Linked DNA regions of Homo sapiens: all the other regions are linked to region 2. Evidence: fine-mapped expression QTL. A gene starts in region 2. Each other region holds a variant in brackets. All regions are shown on one strand. Distances are from middle to middle. Region 1 overlaps FTO (FTO alpha-ketoglutarate dependent dioxygenase). Region 2 holds the start of FTO (FTO alpha-ketoglutarate dependent dioxygenase). Region 3 overlaps FTO (FTO alpha-ketoglutarate dependent dioxygenase).

Region 1 (2,821 bases), 110 kb after region 2:
GAAAATGGTACAGGAAGAATGAGATACAAAAGGTTATCAGCCCACTGTGCTCTGAACCAGCCATCCACTGAGGGATAAAAGGAAACCCAAATGCAAACAGAACAACTATCAAGACTTCTCTGTTATCTTTCCAAGGCCCGCAACAAACCCTGATACTAATATCTAATCACTCTAAGTGCACCTTGCTGTTTTTCTTTTCTTTTTTTTTTTTTGAGACAGCATCTCACTCTGTTGCCCAGGCTGGAGTGCAGTGGTGCAATATCAGCTCACTGCAACCTCTGCCTCCCAGATTCAAGCGATTCTCCTGCCTCAGCCTCCTGAGTAGCTGGGATTACAGGCACCTGCCACCATGCCTGCCTAATTTTTGTAAGTTTAGTAGAGATGGGGTTTCACCATGTTGGCCAGGCTGGTCTCAAACTCCTGACCTCACATTATCCACCTGCCTCGGCCTCCCAAAGTGCTGGGATTAGAGGTGTGAGCCACTGCGCCTGGCCAAAGTACACCTTCTAGGAAGGCTTAGTACTTCAATAAAACCTTAGTAAAAGTAAACCTCTTCTCTTAAAAGATGAAGTGAAAATACTTTTTAATGACATGAGTAAATAGAAAGTTCAGACCTGACACTGGGTCCCTTAAACAGGCCCTCACCACAGGAATGCCAATCCAGCTGCCAGTCATAAACACAGGAGTCTGTTCAGCTTCCATTTTGGGTCTGTCGATTGATCCTTACAGTGTGCTAGGCTTTGTGCTACATGTTTTATGCATGCTCTCACATGCAATCCCCACAACAGCCTCATTCATTGTATTCAGCAACTACTTTTCTTCAGGCTTGAGGTACTTGAGGTAGGTATTTCTGTTTTAGAAATCAAGAGAGGAACCAGGCACAACTGTAAGTTCCACCTACTTGGGAGGCTGAGGTGGGAGGATCATTTGAGCCCAGGAATTGGAGTTCAGCCTGCCTCTCATAACAAGATTAAAAAAGGAGGAAATCAGGAGAGACTAAGTTAGTTATCTGAGTGGGAGAGCTGGAGTTCAGCCCATATTTGTCTGACTCTGAAGGCCCATGCTCTTTCTGCTGTATTGTCCACCTCTTGGTCTACCATGCTCCAATTCAAAACACCTTCAGAGAAGTTTTGCAGTTTCTTTTAATAGGACCGTAGAGAAAAGCAAAACCAAACCACCAAGGGTCAAAGCAGAAAAGCAGAGAGAACTTCTGTTAGCTCATCATGGAACACAAGGAAACGAGGAATTACATAGTCAGAAAACAAACTCTGACTTCCAGAAATATGAATGCAGCCCCTTTTATCCAAAGAAAATGAGACCATCCTCAGTAACCCCCTTGCTGTCACTGATTGTGTGCTAGCTGTGTGCCAGGTTGTTCTGCTGCTACTTTAAGTGCATTACACGTGTGAGCTCACTGAAATCTTGCTATATGCTTCTGAGACAGGTGTTACTAAAACCCTATTTTAGAGATGAGGAAACCGAGGGACAGAGAGGTTCAAAAATTTGTTTAAGACTTATGTGCAGGATATGTTGGGACTAGGATTTAAGTCTGGGCTGTTGGCTTTTGGGTCTCCACTCTTAAGTCCTATACTGCTTCTCTCTTCCCTTGTGTCTCTTCATCCTTCTGAGAT[A/G]ACTCTGCTCTTGTCTCAAAGGTTCCAGACCTCTGTCCCCATCCCAGCTCTCCCTGTGACCTCCAGCTCTCCACTTCCAACTGCCTACGGAGTGGCTCTACCTGAAAGTCTTCCAGCTACATCTAACTCAACATGATTCATATTCATTAAGTTACTTACTCCATTAAACAAATGGATTTCACTCCCCGACTCTGTGCCAGGTACTGTTTTAGGCATTAGAAATGAAGTTGTGAAAACTGACAAGAGATTCGTGTCTTCTTTGAGCTTATTTCTTGTGGGGCAGGTGATGTAGGAGCAAGCCATGTAGATACTTGTTGGAAGAATGTTCTGGGCCTACAGAACAGCAAAGCCTCAGGTATACTTGACAGGAAAAGCACCCGAGGCCAACATACCTGGAGCAGAGGGAGACAGCTGGTGAGAGCAGGGGAGACGGTCAGAGAGAGAGAGAGAGAGAGAGAGAGGCCCGGTTATACGAGAACTTATAGTCTGTAAGTTCTGTAAGAAGAGCATTGGCGGTTACTCTGAGATGAGGAGGCATGAGAAGGCTTGGAGCAAAGCGTGACAGGATGTCACTTACATTTTAATAAGGATTCTTTCTACAAGGCTCTTCCCATTCAGCCTCTTCTCTAACGGTATCCCCTAGTCCCATTCTTGAGATTAGAAAGCTCACCACCCTCAACTTCTATCCATTGCTTTCTTCCCTCATTTAGTCACTGGGTCCCTGGTGGTTTTACCTCTTTAGAATCTCTCAAATTGTTTTTTCTTTTTCCATCCCACAGACACTGCCTCAACTATGTAGGCCACATTGATCACTTTCTGCCTCCGCAGTTTTAGCATCCTCCTGATTAGCGTTCCTCATGCCCTCCCCAGTGCCATCAGAACTGACTTGTACCTCCTTGTTTTATAAATTTTGTTGAGTCGCCTTTGCTTCCAAGATCAAGTTCAAATTCCTCAGCATATCCACCCTATAAGGCCATTGACTTTCTTGTTTTTTTTTTTTTTTTTTTTTTTTTTTTTTGAGACAGAGTCCCGCTCTGTCACCCAGACTGGAATGTAGTGGTGCGGTCTTGGCTCACTGTAACCTCCGCTTCCCAGGTTCAAGCGATTCTCCTGCCTCAGCCTCCCGAATAGCTGGGACTACAGGCGCGCGTCACCATGCCTGGCCAATTTTTGTATTTTTAGTAGAAACA
Region 2 (2,500 bases):
TGCGAGGCCGAGACGGGCGGCTGACTTCAGGCCAGGAGTTCGAGACCAGCCTGGCCAACATGATGAAACCCTGTCTCTACTAAAAATACAAAAATTAGCTGGGTGTGGTGGCACACGCCTGTAATCCCAGCTACTCGGGAGGCTGAGGCAGAAGAATCGCTTGAACCTGGGAGGAGGAGTTTGCAGTAAGCTGAGGTCTTACCACTGCACTCCAGCCTGGGCAACGGAGCAAGAACCTGTCACACACACAAAAAAAAGAATAAAGAAAAAATATTTATTGAATGAATAAATGAATATCAGGTACTGAGATTAAAATGGCAAGCAAAACCCCCGCCTTTATGAAGCTAGCAAGTTATGGAGGTAATCACATGATAAACAAATAATATATAATTAAGCAAACAATAGACCACTCAGGAGGTTTAGGGTCTACCAACCAACTCCTAATCCAGGGCAAATGAGCAAACTGTGTTAGGGACCTACAACTTGCAGGATCTGGATAGAGATGGCAATTAGCAGCATCAACTCTCACCTTCATGGCTGGGATATAACATTTCAAATTGGTCCTGGACGTGGGGATAAAGGGCGGCCTGTGATTCAGGCCTGAGGATGTGGAGGTGTCTTGGGCTGGGCTGCTTTCACGCCAGCAGAACTCCAGGGCCAACTCCAGGGCCTTCTCCAGGCGGCAGAGCGGACCCTAGGACCCCGGCCCGCGCTGCAGTGGGGAGGGTCAGCAACCTCCACCCACCCTCATCCTCCCCCATCCTCCCGGGTACTCACCGTGCCACTGGCCCTGCAGCTAGCTACCGTTGCTATAGCGCCGACAGCGTGGCGGGCGGCTGGCCGAGAGGAGCACGGGAGAAACATGGCAGGCTCCCGTAGCCTCCTGGGAAATGTAGTTCTCCTTGGACTCTAGCCTGTTTGCTCGCGGGGTAGCGGACTACGCTCTTCCAGCTGTCGGACCTGGGAAATTCTCCTGTGCTAAATCCCGTGGCGCTCGCGGGTGTCGCCGCGGTGCATCCTGGGAGTTGTAGTTTTTTCTACTCAGAGGGAGAATAGCTCCAGACGGGAGCAGGACGCTGAGAGAACTACATGCAGGAGGCGGGGTCCAGGGCGAGGGATCTACGCAGCTTGCGGTGGCGAAGGCGGCTTTAGTGGCAGCATGAAGCGCACCCCGACTGCCGAGGAACGAGAGCGCGAAGCTAAGGTATGTCGGGCTCCCGGGGCCTGGAGATCTTCGTGCGCTGTGAGCAAGGATCAGGGAACCGGAAGGGCTTGGTTTGATGGCGAGCGGATGCGCGGTGTTAAACTAAGGGATGACAGGGCCTTGTCAGCAAGGGACCTGGAGATATTAGAGGGGATGTTACAAATTCGTGCTCTTCAGGATGCAGGCCGAGTCTTGTTGGATCGGCTCAAAAATGAGAAGCAAGATACCCATTTCCTTGTCCTTCTTCTGCATCTATTCCTTGGTTAAATTTGTCGCCATCCCTGTGCCTCAGTTTACCGGATTCTCAGATGACTGTGATCATACCAGCTGTGCTTTCTCATAATGGTCTCTGAGGACTGAGATCGGCTTAGATGAAATATCTGTGCAGTCAGCTGTGTTTCTTTGGAACAATTGTCTCCGTGACCGGCTGATAACAGTTTGTGTCTTTTAGCGCTGTGGATATGAATCTTTAACTACATTGCTCCTCTCTACCTTTGATGTTCAGCTTCTGGTAGTTGCCATTCCATGGGATGACCATAATAATGGCAACAGAGATTTTAAAAAGCATTTATTGTGGGTCAGGCACTGTATTAAGTGCATAATATTTAAATTATTTCATATCATTGTCACAGCAGATTGCAAGATAGATATTATACAGATGGAGTATAAATAACAGCCCAGCTTCACAGATGAAGAACTGAGGCTCAGAAGCATTGAGTGTTTTCCTTTCTCTCATTCCCAAACTCAGATCCTGTTGATTTGTCTACGTATATTGGGAATATGCCCACTTTTTTTTTTTTTCATCTCCACTACCTTGGACCAAGCTACCATTATCTTTTTAATAGACTGTTGGAATAGCCTATTGATTGGCCTACACTCACTCTACACCCTAACTTAACTCTTCTTCCACCTTCTCTCCCTTCCCTCAACTACCATTCTCTTCTGCACACCATAGAGTAAGATCTTCGTGAAATGCAAATATAATTATGTCCCTTTCCTTTCTCCTTACTCTGCCAACCACCTGTTTAAAAATATTCCATGGCTTTCTGTTGCTCTTAGGATAAAGGCAAAACTTCACATTGCCTACAAGATCCTGCATGATCTGGACCCTACCTGCTTTCACAACCCCATTGGATATGACACTCTGCTCTCTGCCTACCAGTCACTTTGGCCTTCTTAAAAGTCACTCTTCACTATACTTTATCGGGCTTCAGGGCCTTTGCACATGTCATTTGCTGCCTACTCTATGTTAGGCAAATATTGGCAGTGAATAACAGTGTTAAATAACGTAGACAC
Region 3 (2,852 bases), 140 kb after region 2:
GATGGAGTCTTGCTCTGTCACCCAGGCTAGAGTGCAGTGGCACTATCTTGGCTTACTGCAACCTCTGCCTCCCAGGTTCAAGTGATTCTCCTGCCTCAGCCTTCTGAGTAGCTGGGATTACAGGCATGTGCCACCACACCCGGCTAATTTTTGTATTTTTAGTAGAGACGGGATTTCACCATGTTGGCCAGGCTGGTCTTGAACTCCTGACTTCAAGTGGTCTGCCTGCCTCAGCCTCCCAAAGTGCTGGGATTACAAGTGTGAACCACCACACCAAGCTGAGAATCTTTTGTATCTTAGCTCTTGGCTAAGGAAATAGAAAGTAGAGAATAAGAAATAGGGCTGTTTTTAACAAAAAATTAGCCACGTGTGGTGGCACATGCCTGTAATCCCCACCACTCAGGAGGCTGAGACAGGAGAATCACTTGGACCTGGGAGGTGGAGGTTGCAGTGAGCCAAGATCACGACACTGCACTCCAGCCTGGGCAACAGAGCGAGACTCTAGTCTCAAAAAGAAAGAAAGAGGGCTATTTAAATGTATGGTGATGATGAATATGTACTGAACCTGTGAGGGAAGTTCTTGACATACACTATTATGTATGTTATTAAATATGGTACAAAATTTTTTGTGATATATTTTATTTGAGTATCACTGTAATCTCTACTGTCATACTCTGGCTTCTGTCTTTGTTTCCTGTAGAGCCGTGGTTATAATTAGAAATGTAAACAAAGTATTTTGTGCTTTATTAAATAGAATTTTTTCTCAAAAACTAGCTGGCATAAAACATTGAATGGGTTAATTTTGGGGGGAAGTTTTGGACAATTTAAACTTGACTTTTAAACTTAACAGTCTTTTGTATGTTGTCACATCTTCTACTTATTTAACAGTTTGGTTAGTGGGAGCTGGGAGCTGGGAGTGCACCAAACACACTGAGGTACTTAAAATCTTTTCAATTTTATTGAGGCTTAAAGGCAAGTAAGAACCTGTTGCCTCTGCTTGTTGCCAAAATAACATGGGGCAAGAGTAATCAGTTACAGTTGCTATAGGTAATTACAAGTTGATTTCACTGAGAAGTAAGAACACTATATTTAACAATAAAAAGTTTATCAGACGTGAAACTTTCCTCCTCCCTACACAGCCTAAGGAGGGGAAAAACTCTCACCAAACTATCATTTTACTGAGCAGATTTCAAAGGTGTTGGATTTTTGGGAGACATCGAGAAAGACTAATTGCAATTATTGTCTCTAATTGTCTTTATTGATGCCAGCTTGAGAAGAGTACCAGGATGAAAGTTAGAAGGGAAAGTAGTCAAGCAGACTGTTACCCTATGAAGATTCCCACTTATTAGACTGTCCACACGCAGTGGCATTAAAACTTCATAAAAACTGTTCCTTACAGTTTGAAAATTATTTTTTTCAAGTCATTATAATTGGTTTTCTTTTTTTTTATTTATTTATTTATTTATTTATTTATTTATTTATTTATTT[A/T]TTTTAAGGTGCAGTGTCACTATGTCACCAGGCTGGAGTGCAGTGGCGCGATCTCGGCTCACTGCAACCTCTGCCTCCTGGATTCAAGCGATTCTCCTGCCTCAGCCTCCTGAGTAGCTGGGATTACAGGCACGCACCACCACACCCAGCTAATTTTTGCATTTTTAGTAGAGATGGGGTTTCACCATGTTGGCCAGGATGGTCTCAATCTCCTGACCTCGTGATCCACCCACCTCAGCCTCCCAATGTGCTGGGATTACAGGTGTGAGCCACCACACCTGGGCCTTTTTATTTCTTTTTAATTTTGTGTGGACTTCAATGGTAGAAGTTATAGTTGATTTGACCAGAAAGGGACATGTGAAAAACCTTCCTAAAATATTTCCTTTTTTTTTCTTGTGCTGTTTGCTCTATCTGTAATCATTAGTGCCCCCCTAGAATGAAGCAGCCAAGTCTTGGGTTATCACAAATATAAACATAATTTTTATATCATATTCTTTTGCTAAGGTGATCTGGATATCAATTAATTTAGCATTAATTATTATACTGTATGCTGTCATTAGTCATGTTACATTATTAGGTATTAGTCACATTACATCATAATTATTTTATGCAGCCTCAACTTCTTTACTAAAATGTGCAGTAGACATCAGATCACAAATATCAAGACTTTCGAACAGGTGTTGGCAAATTTTTTTTGTAAAGGGCCAGAAACAAGTACTTTTGGCTTTGTGGGTTTTATAGTCTGTGTCTTATCTACTCAACCTTGCTGTCTGTGTGAAAGCAGCCATTTATGTAAATGAATGGGCATGACTGTGTTCTAGTTAAACTTTATTTTGCAAAAGCAGGTCACGGGACTGATTTGCCTGTGATCTCTGCAACCCAGCTCTTGAGTAAGGGTCACAGACTTTGCTGTGGTTAGGCAGGTACCTCAAATGAGTAAAGTGAAGTGGCTGTGGGGACTGCGACTAGCAAAGGTCACGTCCTTGTCTAAAATGGGCAGCTACTTCTTCCCTATAGCCACTGTGACTGGCTCAGTGATACCAGATCTTGTAATTCAAGGGTAGCTGGGAATTTGGATTTTTAGGCAAAGTCCTTTTATCAGTTGGCAACTCATTTAGATTTGTTAAGGAAATATGGTTGAGGTCAAGCTACACACCTTCGTGAGTTCTTTTCTGGTCCATGAACTCCAGTTTAGCAAATTCTGGTATTTTCAAGTGTAACAGTATATTATGTATGAATAAGAAGTGCCTGTAGAATGTCATCAGACATCGATAGCAACTATCTAATGCTGGTGCTGCCACTCACTAACCCTTGTAGTGCCCATGACAGACATCAGTAATTGATCATAACACTCTTTCCTGCTG

The links. PIP is the estimated chance that this variant, and not a neighbour inherited with it, causes the effect.
Region 1: its variant is fine-mapped to the expression of FTO in skeletal muscle (GTEx, PIP above 0.99).
Region 3: its variant is fine-mapped to the expression of FTO in whole blood (TOPMed, PIP 0.98).

Annotation. Positions count from the first base shown.
Region 1 is chr16:53,813,018-53,815,838 of GRCh38, forward strand. All of the region lies in intron 2 of FTO (FTO alpha-ketoglutarate dependent dioxygenase), which reads left to right. Among named protein-coding and RNA genes, the nearest start is that of FTO, 110 kb to the left of the region's middle. The variant A/G (reference allele first, on the strand shown) is at 1,632.
Region 2 is chr16:53,703,026-53,705,525 of GRCh38, forward strand. FTO (FTO alpha-ketoglutarate dependent dioxygenase) reads left to right here and starts at 1,131. Exons shown (of 9, transcript NM_001080432.3): 1 at 1,131-1,204. The coding sequence starts at 1,160. It overlaps RPGRIP1L (RPGRIP1 like), which reads right to left and starts at 834. Exons shown (of 27, transcript NM_015272.5): 1 at 778-834. RefSeq lists a silencer at 744-793 and enhancers at 829-1,329, 944-1,353.
Region 3 is chr16:53,838,331-53,841,182 of GRCh38, forward strand. All of the region lies in intron 3 of FTO (FTO alpha-ketoglutarate dependent dioxygenase), which reads left to right. Among named protein-coding and RNA genes, the nearest start is that of FTO, 140 kb to the left of the region's middle. The variant A/T (reference allele first, on the strand shown) is at 1,489.